Linked DNA regions of Homo sapiens: regions 1 and 3 are each linked to region 2. Evidence: fine-mapped expression QTL. A gene starts in region 2. Each other region holds a variant in brackets. All regions are shown on one strand. Distances are from middle to middle.

Region 1 (5,511 bases), 39 kb before region 2:
CCTAGCACAGAGCACAGTGTGCATTCAAAGCCCCTCCTTTGTTTGTTGAAGGAAATGATATCCTATTATTCACTTGAACTATGAACTTCAGAATATCATTCCCTGTTATCTCCTTCTGCCATCTGCTATGAACTCCCTTCAGGACTGTAGCTTTCCCACCGACCTTCTTGTCATTGGGAACTGTCTGCCCTTCATTCCTCTGGTCTAAGTATAAACTCCGCACTCATGTACTTAATTCTCATTCTTTCTATCATTCTCTGGCACTTTGCATCTACAAATATCCAACTCTCCTATGAATTTAATCTGCCTTTCTACCTCTTTGTTTATAAATATATTCTAGTCTCAACCATTTTCAAAACAAATAACAAACACCCCACCCAAATGCCTCCCTTTTCCCTGGATCGCCATCCTTTAATGTCATCCTATGTCCTTCCTCTCTTCACAAACCAGCTGCTTCTAGGAGTATTCCATGTTTATCTCTCTTTCATTCTTTCCTCCACCCACTGCTATCAGGATTCTTTCTCCACCACGCCCTTGAAATTTCCTTTGCTAAGGGTAAGAGTCACCTCCTGTCTTAGCCTATTCAGGCAGCTATAACAAAAATACTGTCAACTCGGTGACTTATAAAGAATGGAAATCTATTATTTCTTACAGTTTTACAGGCTAGCAGGTTCAAGATCAAGGTGTCTGATGAGAGCCTGCTTCCTCATAGATGGTGCCTTCTCACTGCATCCTCATGTGGTGTAAAGGACAGAGGGCCTTTCTGGGGACTCTTTCATAAAGGTATTAATCCCATTCACAAGGGCTCCACTCTCACGACCTAATCATCTCCCAAAGGCCCCACCTCCAAGTACCATCACTGTGGAGATTTCAATATGAATTTTGGGGAAAGTAAACATTGAGACCATAGCACTATCTAATCGCTAAATCCAGTGACTTAACCCCCAGGGATTTCTCCCACACCTCTGGCTGTGTCTACTCAGCCCCTTATGATAGCTTCAGTTTCTCAGATCATCCCTTAAATGAGAATGTTACCCACAGCCTTGTTCTTGATCAACTCGTTTTACAATGTGTATCCAGCTGCTGTAAATACCACAATAATGCCAGTGAATCTCAAGTCCCTGTGTCCAGCCCAGGGCCATCTCCTGAGCCCCAGTCACAGAATAGTGATCCCCTGCTGGGCTTCTGCACTTGACCATCCCTTGAACACCTCAAACTCCACATGATAAAAGGGAATGTGCTGTCACTTCCCTGATCCTGACCTACTATGTCCCTTTGTCAGTAAACCTCACCAGACTTCTGACATCACTGTAGGAGTCATGTTGGACTACCCCCTTTCTATCGCTTTCCACATTTGATTAATCACCAGGTCCTACTCATTCTATTAGTGTAAAAGTAACCTGCCACCACCTGGAGCACCATGTTTGCTCAGTACAGCATCATTAAGAGAGAAAAAAAAAAAAAGGAATGTAAATCTTTATTGTAGTCTCCTCCAAAATACCAAAGGTAATTATATAGTATGACACATAGCAAAATGGTCTAAAATTCTCTTATCCACCCATTTCTTCAAAAAATCTATTACTTTTCACAGCATAGTAGCTGAGCTATCTCACTCACACACTCTCTCCTCTTAAAACAGACTCAAGATCCCTACTTAGAAGGCTAGAGGAGGGCTGAAGGCTGCAAGTATTCATGGAGGACTATAAATTTTATTCTGCCACATATATTTGCTGAATTATGAATTATCTCCATGTGTACTATTTGACTCGTTTTCTCCCTTACAACCTTGTTGCTGCCATACACATTCAAGTTCTAATCATTTTTCTTTCTTCTCCATTCAGATAACTTTTCATTTGCCTGTTTGTCCCTCATCTTTCATCTCTGTAATTCCTCTTCCACACTGCCACTCATGTCATCTCTAGAAATCAGATCTCTGAATGCTATCCTGTTGCTCACAATCCTTTAATGGCTCCCATAATCTGAAAGACGAAGTTCTACTCCATAGTCTAGCATCCAACATCTTAAAGATCAAAGTTGGGCACTGCCTGTTTCTCCAGCCCTATCTCCTGTAACCCTGTCTTGCCCAGGCATCATGTGGACCAGGCTTCTTGATGTGTTCCTGAAGACTGCACTAGTCTGCCTAACTGTAACTCAGAGCTCTCCCCTAAGTGTCATGTTAGTATACATCCATCACTTTGCCAGATATCTGTATTTCAAACCCAACCTGTCCCAAAGTGAAGTTATCATCTGTTCTTTTTCTTATCAAAATTCTCATTTTCTCTTAGTGGCCCCACCATCTACAAGCTACACTGGCATTATTGACTCTCTCTTTTCTTTTTCCCCTCATATCTAATAAAATTTCAGCAATTTCACCTCTCCTAATATTTCAATTCACCTCCTCATTATTTATCTTGACTACTGCATCAGCCTTCTAACTTCTCTGCATCCTGTTTTGTCCTCTTCAAATCCATTCTCCACACAACTATCACAATATAGACAACTGTTTAATTTTTTTTGTGTGTGTGTGAGACGGAGTCTTGCTCTATGGCCCAGGCTGGAGTACAGTGGTGCAATCTCAGCTCACTGAAACCTCTGCCTCCTGGGTTCAAGTGATTCTCCTGCCTCAGCCCCCCAGGTAGCTGGGATTACAGGTGTGCACCACCATGCCCAGCTAGTTTTTGAATTTTTTAGTAGAGACGGAGTTTCACCATATTGGCCAGGTTTGTCTTGAACTCCTGACCTCAGGTGATCTGCCCGCCTTGGTCTCCCAAAGTGCTGGGATTACAGACGTTTAAATTTCCTAATGCCCCTTCTTAAGATCCTCCTATGCCATGATCACAGGCTTGCCTGTTTCTGTAGCCATCTGCTGTTGCCTGCCTGCAATTTCACACTCTAGCAATACTAAACACCTGGGCACTGGAGTGTAGAAAAAGAGTAGTGGCACAGTTT[A/G]TGTGTGTGTGTGTGTGTGTGTGTGCAGAGGATAGGTAGATGGCACCAAGCAATGCTTTAAAGTAGAGTTGTTTCAATTTTAAAGGAATTTTGCAGAGATGGGGTCTCATTTTGTTGCTCAGCCTAGAGTGCAGTGGCACAATCATGGCTCACAGCAGCACAAACTCCTGGGCTCAATCAGTCCTCTTGCCTCAACCTCCTGAGTAACTGGATCTACAGGCACACACCATCATGTCTGGCTAATTTTTTTGGTTTTTATTTTTTTAGAGACTATGTTGCCTAGGCCAGTCTTGAACTCCTGGCCTTAAGTCATCCTCCTGCCTCAGCCTCCTGAGTAGCTGGAATTACAGGCGGGAGCCACTGTGCTCTGCTAGTAAAGTTGGATTTAAATAAATGTTTCATGGAATTGAGAGACATATTTAGAGAAACACAAACAATTGGGAGGACAGTTTTAACTAGAAAGTAGAAATAGTTCATTATGGCGAGAAGAGCGCAGAACTGGGAGTCAGAAGTACAATTTAGTCTTGATTTTGCCCTTTCCTAGCTGTGTGAATTTGAACAAGTCACTTAACTTCTCTGGGCATCAGTTTGCTCATCTGTAAAAATGAGGCAGGTGGATTAGATTCCCAAAGATCCTTCAGTTCTTAAAATGTATGATTCTAGGGGAAAAAAGTTCCCAAAATGTGTTCCATATACATTATAGGCTGCCACTCAAAAACATACAATAGAAACTTCAATCTTAGAGATTTCGAATTACTTCTTCAGTGTTTCTCTCAATGCCTGAGCCCAGTTCTCATCACAATCCTCAGCTCTTCCTCATTACCATCATCCTCTGGTTCCAGGTTACCAGCAAGGCTGGTGTGTAAATAGTGATTTTGAAATGCTCTTAAAGTCTGGTTGCTGAGGCTAAGTCATATTATGAGGTAAAAACAGAAAGCAACATGAGGGAATAGATTTGCAGTTTCACCAGCGTGCAAATAATTCATTAACACTCGCTACAGTTGTGACCTTATGACTTTATTTTCACAGAATTCAGTTCTCAAAAGGTTCTAATAACCTTACAGAAGACCATTCCTACAATTCAAATATGCTACCACCAAGTGACACTGCCACTGCTACCAGGTGACACTTGATTGATTGATTAAAGACAGAGATCAGTTGATAAAGGCAAGGCTTCTCTGCAGTTCAAACTGCACTCTGTGCAAGTACTGTAACACGTTATCACTCCCATCAAATGTGTAACTCCCATCAAATGTGTATTCCCATATGGATAAATATCACAAGTAGATTTTTAAATTATTAAATTAGGCCAGGCACAGTTGCTCATGCCTGTAATACCAGCACTTTGGGAGGCCGAGGCGGGTGGATCGCTTGAGCCCAGGGGTTCGAGACCAGTCTGGGCAACATGGTCAAATCCGTCTCTACTAAAAATACAAAAATTAGCCGGGCATGGTGGCACACACCTGTAATCCCAGCTACTTGGGAGGCTGAGGCACAAGAATCGCTTGAACCCAGGAGGTGGAGGTTGCAGTGAACCAAGATCATGCCATTGCACTCCAGCCTGGTGATACAGCAAGACTCGGTCTCAAAAAATATATATTAAATTAAACTGAAGCACCATATTTAGAAATCATTTTAGGGTAGTGGTTCGCAACACTGGCTGCATGTTAGAAACACCTGGGGAACTTTAAACACTTTACCAGTGCCCAAACCTCTCCCCTACAGCCTCTGATTTAATTGCTCTGGGTGGATCTTATTCACCAGAGAATCTTTTTCTCCTTGTTCTTGTGGAGGATAGAGTGTCCTTTGCTCTTAAAATTATCATGTCACCTTTTTCAACACCAGGATTAATGGAGGGACTTGAGAAAAAATGCTGTGACTCCTTCTCCATCCTTCTGACCACTCATTCATTTATCTGTCCACGTTTCCGTATGGGTATAACACTATGTCAAGGAGGGTAGAGAGGACCAAGATAAATATTTGAGTCCTATTAGCAACTCTACTGGCTACAGATGTTTTTATAAACTGCCTTAAATTTAAGGAGAACTTTACTGTAGAACCAAACTTTCTGATCAGAAAAATAAGCTGCAAAACAGTGACATATACGATTTTGAAATATTCCGATTTTTTAAAAAATTAACTTTTTAATTGAAATATAACAAACATGTATTATAGAAAAGTGTGCAGTTATAAGCATATATTTGAATAAATTATCGTCAAACATAGCCATGTACTTCTCTCCTCCCCAAAGGTACCACTATTCTGACTTCCAGCATCACAGAATAGTTTTGCCTGCCTTTAAATTTTATATAAATGGAATAAAATAGCATACATTTCTTTTGTCTGGCTTCCTTTTTTTTTTTTTTTTTTTTTGAGAGGGAGTCTCACTCCTTCACCCAGGCTGGAGTGCATTGGCATGATCTCGGCTCACTGCAACCTCCACCTCCCAGGCTCAAGCATTCTCCTGCCTCAGCCTCCGGATTAGCTGGGACAACAGGCGCCTGCCACCATGCCCAGCTAATTTTTTTTTTTTGTATTTCTAGCACAGAGGGGTTTCACCAT
Region 2 (5,511 bases):
TCTCTGGAGAAAGCAACAGGAATACTGGCTGGTAGGACAGGAGGTTAATTTCCCACAATAAGTGGCTTTTGAGGGCTCCACTACAGCATTTGCATATTAAAGATTGGTCCCAGAAGGCTGTAAGATTTGAGGACATTTGGCTTATATTGAGAATACTGGCACTAAAATAATTGAAATTCTTGTTATCTCCTGTTCCCATGGTTCCCAACTTTGTATTTCTCAGACTAGTAATATTTTAACAAAAATTCTAGGGACTGCTTGGGTCATCAACCTTTTACTGTGTCATTCAAAAATATTTTCAAAACTGTTTCATAAAATAAAGGACATGTTAACACACACAGACAAAATAGGGCATAATAGAACAATTTTTAAAATGTGTTTTTATAAAAACCAAATTTGTTTTATGAAAGAAATTTGTTTTTATGTTTTTATCTGAAATGATCTCACATTTTCCAAACTATTGAATTGAAAACAGTATACATTTCATTTTATTTAGCCTTAGCTAATAACCCTTTATTCACTTATTTGTTCATTTTTGGAAAACACTAAATGTTTTTTATAAGCCTCTCTTTTCTTTAAAAAAAAAAACATTTTGAAAAAACAGGGTATCACTCTGTCCCCAGTGGGAGTACAGTGGCAAGAGCTCAGCTCACTGCAGCCTCAAATTCCTGGGCTCAAGTGATCCTCCTGCCTCCGCCTCCTAAGTAGCTGGGACTACAGGCGCATGTGCCATCACACCCAGCTAATTTTTTAATTTTTTGTAGAGAGAGGGTCTCATTATGTTTTCCAGGCTGGTCTTGAACTCCTGGTCTCAAGCAATCCTCCCACTTTGTCCTCCAGAGTGCTGGGATTACAGGTGTGAGCCATCATGCCTGGCTTATAAACCTCTTATGTGCCATTCACTGTGCTAGGTACTGGAGGGCAGAGATGAACATGACTTTGCCCCTGCCCTCAATATCTCAAGGTTTACTAGGGAAGTCAACCAGGTGATCTCAAGTGCAAAACTCACACAGTACAAGGGGAAAATGTAAAGGCAACAATTCATAAGTAGATGCTCTATCTCTATGCAGAACTGCAAGAAATACCAAAGCCTGATGTCAGGATTTACTTAGCACATGTAATTTGAGTTTTCTTACCAATGATTTAGGGGGAAGCTGAGACTTACTCCAGAGATCATGGAGTTTTCAGACTTTTTTCTGCTCCCAGCCAATCACAGGACTAGGAACACACCTCACGTGCAACATGTCAACCAGTCGATGAGTTCTCCCACGCTAGATAGAAAGAGGCTGGGTATATGGCGTTTGGGAAACAAAAACTGCAGCCTCTCCCTTGTCTACCATGAAATGGCTCTGCATACAGCCACTCTGCTCACTACAGAACATATAACCTGAAGGTTACTGGAGGACAGAGCAGGGTGAGGGCTGTGCTGCCATGGTAACAGTGCCATAGGATTTGGTGCCACACTGGAGATGGGGCACTCAGGGCACTTTCTGGCTACACACAGCTGGAAGATGTCTAGGAGCAGTGTTAGGCACATTGGTCCCCCCTGCTCAATACAAACCACCCTCACTTTGGGAAGTGATGAGGTTTTCTAGTTCCGATCTGGAGTGAGAATCAGACGGAGGCATATCATGGTATCCCAATCATCTAGTTCTGGAATTTCCCTAGAGGGTAGGGGATGCTGGTATAGTAAGGGATACATAAACACATTTATATGGGAAGAAGATCCAGAGGTTGGTACACTGGGGAGTCTCTGTCTCTGTCTCTGTCTCTCTTTCTCTCTTTCTCTCTCTGTCTCCCTCTCTCTCCCCGCCCAGTGCTCCAGAGGTACCACACTAGAGGAAAGAAATGAACTATATGCATCTTCTTACGTTATATAATCGGAGTATATATGTCAAAGGGATAGTCACTGGAACATTTTTCCCTCCTTATCTTCCCTCAACTTTTGTCAAAAATAGGTCTAGAACTTTCACACAATTATCCATCCTTATTTAAAATCAAAACCTGGATTGATCAGCTGATGGCTGCAGTTCTCACGTCTTTGCCCAGGTCTTCTGGCGTCTCTGAAGCACAACGTGTGACAATGGCACAAAAACGCAGGAAGTGACTGTTGAATGCACAGAGGTTCTGCAGCTTCCGTCCATTTTCACACAATTTCCATTTTAGATTCTGAGCAGTTCTCCCTCCCCATGCGCTATGAAATAGAAGGGTCTGGCTGAATCAGCCACTTGAAATTAGGTTTCTTCCCTGCAGGGGATTAGGAACCGAGGTGCGGTTCTTCTTCGCACTCCACACCACACCCCGCAACCCTAGAAATCAGGACTTTCCTGGAGAAAGACCCAGCAGGGACCCAGGACCCGCAGACGGTGCGGGGAACTGGTGCCTCTGCAAAGCCCAGCAATGCCCTTGACCAGGCCAGGAGAGGCGCGAGGCGAAGCAGAGTTGTCCCCGAGGCGTGTTGAGGCAGCTAGGGCAGGGCAGCGATTGCTTCGGAGGAGAAAGGGAAAGAAAGTCCCCTGGTCCCCGAAGTCTCCCAAGGTCAATTCCCAGGGGACTCCAAAGCAGCGACGGGGCTCTGAGATCTGGCAAGTTCTAGGAGTCGAGCGAGGGGAGCGAGTGTCTTACCTGGTCGGGCTGGCTGGTGTAGTTGAAAGAGTAGATGTTCTCGGTGCTGAGGTTCACCACCCCGCTGTAGACATGATCGAAATCGGCGCCCCTGGCAGCGTCGAAGGGGTCGCGGCGCGGTGCCGGGGGCTGCCTGGGGGATTTCGCCGGGTGCCCGGGCGACGCCGCCAGCAGGAGCCAGGGCAGCGCGCAGAGCAGCGCGAGCCGCAGGCAGCCGCGCATGGTGGGCACCGCGCCCGGGCTCGAAAGCGGAGCCACCCTGGGGAGGGGGCGAGCGCAGAGAGGGTCCTTCCAAAGCCCGGTGCAGGGCCAGGCGTCCGCTTCAGAGCCGAGCGGGTGATGCCTGGCGAACCCAGCCGGCCAGGGCTGGCAGCGTGCTGACGAAGGGCCGATCAAATACTGATGCTGCCGCCTGGGGTCTCCACTGGAGGTCACGGGTGGAGAGTAGGGCGGACTGGAGAAGTGGAGATGTGGGGCTGCTGATTTTCCTCCGGCTTCTAAGTCCCCCGTTTCTCATCGCCGAGAATCCCCCCACTTACCCAGCCAGAATTTAGACCGATCTCTTCTCCCTCAACCTCAATAACAGCAATAATAAAAAGGCATTGGAGTCATTAAAAAGAAATACCCGCTAGTCTCGAAAAGTCAACCTGACGCCACATCGAGGAGGAAATTCGGTCTGTTTCAAATACGTGTGCACCCTGGCTGCAGGAGAAGAAATAGAAAGCAAAAGAGCCCGTCCCCCAAGAGGGTGCGCGAGTTCGCTTTCCCAGGCTGCTACCTGCAGAGAACTCTTGCCTGTCTGAACGATAATTACTCTCTATTCTCCCCTCTCTAATAGAACCTCTCCTCAGACACCTGTTTTATTTCTTTATTACCTCCTACTCTCCATGGAGAGTCTCACGTCATCACGTTCTCTCCCTCACCATATGTGTATGTATGTAAATATGTACAGTTAAAAAAAAAAAGATATGGTAAAGAGAACAATTTCCAGCACTGCCTGAAGTCTGGTCCCGGAAGTTGTCAAAAAACGACTCAGACTAACTAGATTTATGCAGAAGGCATTTCTTTCCACCCCAGCCTCTTACCTACTTTACCATTGCAATGACTTCTTCCAGATTCTGAGAGAAACCCCAGGATTGTTTTTTTAAAGGCAGAAACCACAGCCTATCGTAAAAAGGAAATACTTTTCTGATAAAAATTAGGGGATTAGATTTAAAGAGTTAAAGAGGCAGGTAAGGAGCAGGGTGAGAATGGGGCCATCAGAAGACCTTGCAGAACATTGAACAATCACAATTTACGTGTGGAAGAGAACTCACTGTTTTATTTCAGCTTCATTACTGTATACTATAAAAGAATGTAATTGTGTTCAACCTGAAGGACCATTTAAAAAGAAGTCATTAAGAAGGAAAAGATCTTTTTCAAAAATTTAAGATTACAGATTAAAATCCTAGTCCTTGCCATCTTTAAAGAGATAGATTTGTTTTTGTTTTTACCTTGTCTAATTCCTTTAATTTCTTAAAACATCAAGAATGAATGCAATACATTTGTTGTAAAGTTTTCTGTGAAATCAGAAAACAATGCTGATGGAAGATTAAGTTAGTAGACTCCTTATTAGGACAATTTTCAGTTTTAAAGTTTTGAATGTTCTTGGCCAGGTGCAGTGGCTCATGCCTGTAATCCCAGCACTTTGGGAGGCTGAAGTGGGAGGTGGGCTAGCTTGAGGCCATGTGTTCATGACAAGTCTGGGCAACATGATGAAACCCCATCTCTACAAAAAATACAAAAATAGCTGGGCGTGGTGGTGCATGCCTGTCGTCCTAGCTACTTGGGAGTTGAGTTGGGAGGACTGCTTGAGTCCGGGAGGTCGAGGCTGCAATGAGCCGTGAACACCCCACTGCACCCCAGCTTGGATGACAGAGCAGGACCCTATCTCAAAAGGAAGAAAGGAAGGAAGGAAGAAGGAAGGAAGAAAGGAAGGAAGGAAGGAAGGAAGGAAAGAAAGAAATTTCTTGAAAATATATGGGTATATGGGCAAAAATACTAATTCAAAGGAGAGTCTGGGGGTAAAACTTCAAATAGAACTCACTGTTTTTGAGGAGCATAACGAAATAATTTCATCCAGAATTTGAATGACTTTAAACTGTTGTATTCAAAATATCTGTGCCTCTTTTCAAAGTTCAACAACATTTCATAAACTTGAAATCTACGAAGGTCCTGGAGGTTAGCTGGTGTGACCAGTTAAAGGAGTCTCTAGGATTATGGAGTTCTATTATGGCGTTCTTTTTAAACACTATAAGAGATGAGGAACTGGTTCTTTCACAAGTCAACACCTTCTTTTGGGGGCAAGTGTCTCATTATTAGAAAGACATTTCATATTCTTAGTTGAAATCTGCCTGTCTTCTACTCACTTGTACTAGTTCTGCCCTCTGGAGTCATAGGAATAAACCTAATACTTCTTCCACATGACAGACCTGTGGGTATTTAAATGGTGCTATGACCCTTCCTTCAAGATTTTATCTCAACTTTACGCAACTAAATTGGAAGCAAATGGAACAGATCCTTCATCATAGCATGAAACCCAAAATATTTATTTTAAAGCCATTTGTATGGATTATCTATACCTAACAATTTGAGTTATATATTACAAGTCACTCTGTAATATTATCTAATCCTTATTCTAGCCAAAAGTCATTCAGTGACCTCAAGTAATTAACCTCTCAGGATCACAAGGTTGTTGTAAGGATAAAAGGGAGAATGATGTATTTGAAAGTACATTAAAAAGTTTAAAGTGTTGAATGAACAAATACTGTTATGGTGTGACTGCTAGTTCAATAGCTAAAAAATAAAATGTGGTCCATTAGGTAGGTGGTTTTTTTCTTTATTTTT
Region 3 (5,511 bases), 69 kb before region 2:
TCTTACAACCATTTGTAAAACAGTGTAAGTAGTACCTGCTTCTGGTTTAACCAAATCATTTATGAGGGCCTATCTCTTTAGGCTGCTGTTAGATTAAACATCAGAGTGTAAGTAATGAGTGACGGATCACGTGAAAGGGTGTGGTTTCCAAACTGATGGTCCCACTATGAAATTTCATGTGGCCCCATTGTCCCTTATTTCCTTCTAAGATCTGCATGCAAGTAAAAGGGCATCCTCCAGGAGAAAATAAGGGGAGGAGCTGTCACAAGAGTAGAATACTCAGCTTGGGGGTTTCTGAGGGGAGAGAAGATTTCTTGCAAGGCAGCTCAGCCTCTTGGCTGGGAGGGAGGCTGTGTCCATGTGTGTGGCCATTGCAGGTCTACTGATAGTTGGCTGGTAACATCATTCCCTATGCCTGTGCCTCATTAAACACTAAAACCTTGTGCCTAAGTGGTTGTGGCTCTGACTAAGAAAACTATGTTTATTTAAGGGAACCATGGTCCTACTGGTCATCTACTTACCAAAAATAAATTTTATATTTTTTGCTGACAATTCTCCGGTCCTTCCTGGACAAATCTGACAGGTAAAGGAACATCTGGAATGCCAAATAAAAAGAGAATGCAAAACTGTACTCAGCTCTTTATGCATGAGATACAAAGGCAAACATAACAAATGTCTCAATTTAAATTAAAATTGTTAAAATTATTCAAGCGATACAATTATTCAAATTTACTAAATTTGATTAAGTAAATCAAATTTACTTGATTAAAATTATTTAAGACTTTTCTTTTAATGTTGTTTTTCCCATGATACCTTAATAAAAACCCTAGTATTTTCCTTGGAATATTAAGGATTGGCTGATGTGGGCAACTTATTGGGAGTCTTGAGTGCTTCTTACATGTCAAGAATTGATTTCCCAGCTTTCAGAGCTGTCCACTGTGTGGTTCTTGAACTACATAGGGCTGAAACTGTACGTTTCCCCTTCATATCTTTTGCTGGATATGACAGAAAATAATAATCACAAGCCAGAAACAAATTAGCTTTCCTTTTGAAAGATGATATGCACAGAACCGGGGAGCTTTCCCCAGTACACCCCTCAAATGAATCTTTTCTTTAATCTGGTTGGATCCCTTCCTTCTTTATTGCCTACAGTCATTCACTTCAGACCTTAAGAGTGTTTTAATGCCCTGTGCTCTTTAATGTGCTCACTTTCTTCCGCGAGAAAAAAAAGTGCGAATTAACAGAGTATTGCTTTTAGTCTGTAGGTACATTTGATTTAAGTCTTCTGGGAAATTTGGGTTTCCCTGAAGGAAACAAAATAAAGGAAACTGAGGTATTGCTGAAGTTTATTCTACTGCCAAACTTTCTGCCCTCTCAAAGAGTACGGCGAGGCAGAGTGGGTACCTTGGTCCGGATGATGTTTTTATCACTCTCAATGTCTGGCATGGTGTCGAAGTCGCTCTCCTCCACGGAGCTGTCTGTGTCTGACTGGCCCGGTGGCCCACCATCGGAGGAGGACATCTGCCTTCCAGGACTGGAGCTTGACTCATCTGAAACAGAGACAACTCATCTGCCATCAAAAGCCGTGGAGAGCCTACGGAGCCCATTCGTCTCTGCAAAAAGCACAGTGCAGACTCATTCTAGGAAATGCTGTGTTGATCCAAATGAACTTCTCATTCACAAGACCTGTTCTTTCTCTCTATTCCTTCTCAATGGACTTTTATTTTTCCTCTTCTCCTGTTTTTATATTTAACTTGGCTATCTTCAGGACTGAACACATATTAGAATCTAAGGGCATCTGCTCTGTTAACTATTTGGATACAAAAATAATATTATACTTCTATTTCATGTTTCATATGTTAAAATATGAACATAAATATATACAAATACACATGCACATCGCTATGTATAGCATCTATTGCATATATGTGTGAGCCCACACATATCTAACAGCTATACATTTCTCATGGGTAAAGTATTTGTACACAGAAATCACCCACATGCTGTATCTATGATTATATAATGAAAACAACATTCTCAGGAAGAAGAATCCTTCTGTTCCCATGAATGTTTCCCAGAGCAGATGGAGATTTATGCAGCTTGATGGGCACATGAGCTGAGCTTACCTTCCGCTTTATTTCTTCTGTTCAGATGGTTTCTTAAAAATCCTGTTCTAACAGAACTAAAAATAAGTAGTCTGCACTGAGCCCACATGCTTCTCAAAGTTACAGAATGATAGGGCAGGAATACAGGATTCCCAGTCCCTCTACACTGACATTTTAAAGAGCACCATTCATAGGTCCACAAGCAATATGGAAGGGCAGGCAGCTCAATGAGCTTCTACTCTAACAAGACAGGTCTAGGATTCCATTCTTTTCAGCCCACTTAAGGAACACTGGGGTTTGCCATGTGAACGACTGGGTGGCAGTGAGCAGGTTCAATTATGAAGTCAGCCAAAATGAAGGATTGGTAGGCTACAGCCATGTTCACCTGCAGCACTGCCTCAGTCTTCTGATCGCCCCTTACTCCACTGAAACCTGAGAATGAAACAACTGGTCAATTGATGTCAGGCTCCCTGGGACACATCTTTCATGCCCTAAACCC[G/A]GGCTGGATATGAAAAAGTCCCTAGGGGGCCTTAGTATTAGATGGCAAACATTGAAGGAATTCTGCCCAAGTGGGGCTAGCAGATCCAAGAAACAGAACAACAGAACTGGAGAAAGTTAGAGCTGGGAGGAAGCTTCCAAATCTCCAAGCAACTCATCTTACAAATAAAAGACAATCTCATAGGATAGCTGCTTTGCCCACATTCCCAGTTATTAGTGGCTGGAATGCCTTTCTATCATATTCTCTGCAGAATTAGGAAACACTTTCATGAACAGACCTGGTAGGACATACCTATTGTCCCATAATTGCTCCCTTCGGGTGTGCTGGCAGCAATGGGATGAGATGCCACCATATTTCCAGAGCCTGTTAAAAAAAGTGAAGAGGCAAACACTTTATGTCCAGTTGCTAAAACAAAACAACACTATTCTAAGTAGCTTGAATCATCAGGGCACATTATTTTAGGTTTGATTTTCTTTTTACACTAATACAGGAGTCACCAAAACTATGACCCATCTGCCAAATCTAGCCTGCCACCTGTTTCTGTATGGCTCTTCAACTAAGATTAGTTTTCAAACCTTTAAATGACTGGGGAAAAAATCCAAAGAAGAATAATGTTTCATGACAGGTAAAAATGATACGAAATTCAAATTTCAGTATTTATGTATAAGTTCTACTGAAACACAGCCATCATTTCCATTGGTGGACAATAAAAATACTCAGTTTTGTAAGCCAGCTTTGTAGGTTTTTAGCATGTTTTAAATTTTTTATGTGTCCATTAATTTCCCCCATAAAGAAAAATAATTAAAGTGTAAACTCAAAACCTTTAGCCAGGTTTTGGACTTAAACTTTAATTATAAGGACTAATGCAATGGCCTTGGAGATCCAATTTCTTTTCTTCTTTGGTGGTTTAGCCAAGAGCTGGCTCAGCTGGACAGCAAGGCTTCTGGCTAACGCAGCATTTTTGGCAGCCTAAGCTGTTCCCAGGGCCCTTAGCACACAGATCTTGGCCTTCAAAATGCAGACTTTGGCCCTCAGAATGCATGCTCCCTGGCACTGTTACTAGGCTTGGAGATCCCCTCATAAATTTCTTCTTATTTAGGGAAATTAGGTGTTCCCTGGCCTTTCTTGGGCTGACCCATAAGTATGTAACATGTCATCAATACCATCTATGCTTTTCAACCAACTTCAAATCAAAGAAACAGGTTACCTTCAGACTGTTAAGTATGAGAGATCAAATCTTTCGAGCACAGTAACAGTGCCATGTGAAGATGTTGTGTGCAATTTGCCTGACTCTTTTTGACTTAGAACAGAATTGGCCATAGTTACAGCATAGAGCTTTGCTGCTGCAGCTGCTACTGCTGCTGCTACCAGTACTACCTCTATTACTACTGACTGATGTTTATTGCAGACTTACTGTGTAGGACAGTCTTTTAAATTCTTTCCAGGAATTTAGTCTTTTAAATTTTCAACAACCCTAGGAGGTTGATAATATTATTATCACCATTTTAAAGATGATAAAAGGGAGATGCTGAGAGATCATGTAATTTGCCTGGTCACTCTGAGAGTGGATGGATAGTGTTTCATTGTATTGGTCTCGGTGAGAACTTATTTTTTTTTTATGAAAAATTATTATTATTTCTTGGGACAGGGTCTCACTTTGTCACCCAGGCTGGAGTGCAGTAGTACGATCTCGGCTCACTGCAACCTCCACCTCCCGGGTTCAAGCGATTCTCCTGCCTCGGCCTCCTGAGTAGCTGGGACTACAGGTGCACATCACCACAACTGGCTAATTTTTGTATTTTTAGTAGAGACAGGGTTTCACCATGTTGGCCAGGCTGGTCTTGAACTCCCCACCTCAAGTGATCAGCTTGCCTTGGCCTCTCAAAGTGCTGGGATTACAGGCGTGAGCCACCATGCTTGGCCTAAAAAATGATTTTTAATTGTATATATTAAGATGTACAACATGATGTTTTGATATTACGTGCACATAGTGAAATGATTGCTATAGCTAAGCAAATTAACATATCCATCACTTTCCATAGTTCCCTCTTTTTTGTTGTTATAAGAGCACCTAAAATCTACTCTCTTCACAAATTTTCAACATAGAATGCAATATTATTAACTATATATATTCTTCCTACTGTATACTAGACTTATTCATCCTACCTGCCTGCAGATTTGTACCTTTTGACTTACAGCTCCTAATTTCCTCCCACTCCCTGTCCCTGATATTCACTGTTCTACTCCTTATTTCTATGTATTTTACTTTTTAAAAGATTTCACATATAAGAGAGACCATGCAGTACTTTGCTTTCTGTGTCTGGTGTATTCCACTTAGCATAACATCCTCCATGTTTATCCATGGAAGGCATATTGTTGCAAATGGCAGCATATCCTGCTTAAAGGCTGAATAACCTTCTGTTGTATTAGACAAAACTTATCTTTTTAACTGAAAAGACAGGAATTTTCCTTCAAACAAGAACAATTGGTAGTAAATATGTTACTTTCATATAGTGCTCAAGAATACCTTTCTAAAGAGACAAAGAGGTTGAGGCTCATTTGCATCTCCACTGTAATAAACTCACATTTTAAAAAAGCACAGCTTTTGCTTTTTAGATTGGCAGCTGCTGCCTGCCAATGATTACCCACTGGCGTGGGTCATCCTGCATCTTCTTTCTGTTTAGTTTATTGCAGGGAGTCTCATGGAACCCCTGGGTTGCTCTTATTCCTAGATGATGTTGTAGGTCTTTTACATTCCCCTCAGTATCTTTCACATTTTTCTCTTTTCAAGCTCCCTATTTTATTTTATTTATTTATTTCTTGAGACTGGGTCTCACTCTGTTGCCCAGACTGGAGTGCAGTGGCACAATCATGGCGCACTGTAGCCTCAACCACCGGGTTCAGGCG

What was found. PIP is the estimated chance that this variant, and not a neighbour inherited with it, causes the effect. A credible set is the group of variants that fine-mapping cannot tell apart.
Region 1: its variant is the best candidate, but not a certain one, in a credible set for the expression of SIDT1 in whole blood (TOPMed, PIP 0.80).
Region 3: its variant is the best candidate, but not a certain one, in a credible set for the expression of SIDT1 in whole blood (TOPMed, PIP 0.58).

Annotation. Positions count from the first base shown.
Region 1 is chr3:113,568,950-113,574,460 of GRCh38, reverse strand. All of the region lies in intron 3 of SIDT1 (SID1 transmembrane family member 1), which reads right to left. Among named protein-coding and RNA genes, the nearest start is that of SIDT1-AS1, 19 kb to the left of the region's middle. The variant A/G (reference allele first, on the strand shown) is at 2,950.
Region 2 is chr3:113,530,358-113,535,868 of GRCh38, reverse strand. It overlaps SIDT1 (SID1 transmembrane family member 1), which reads right to left and starts at 3,314. Exons shown (of 25, transcript NM_017699.3): 1 at 2,626-3,314. The coding sequence starts at 2,847. RefSeq lists enhancers at 2,423-2,552, 3,023-3,352, 3,493-3,682, 3,703-3,922 and a silencer at 2,703-2,752.
Region 3 is chr3:113,599,044-113,604,554 of GRCh38, reverse strand. SIDT1 (SID1 transmembrane family member 1) reads right to left here. Exons shown (of 25, transcript NM_017699.3): 11 at 2,896-2,967; 12 at 1,405-1,550; 13 at 522-595. Among named protein-coding and RNA genes, the nearest start is that of MIR4446, 6.9 kb to the right of the region's middle. The variant G/A (reference allele first, on the strand shown) is at 2,605.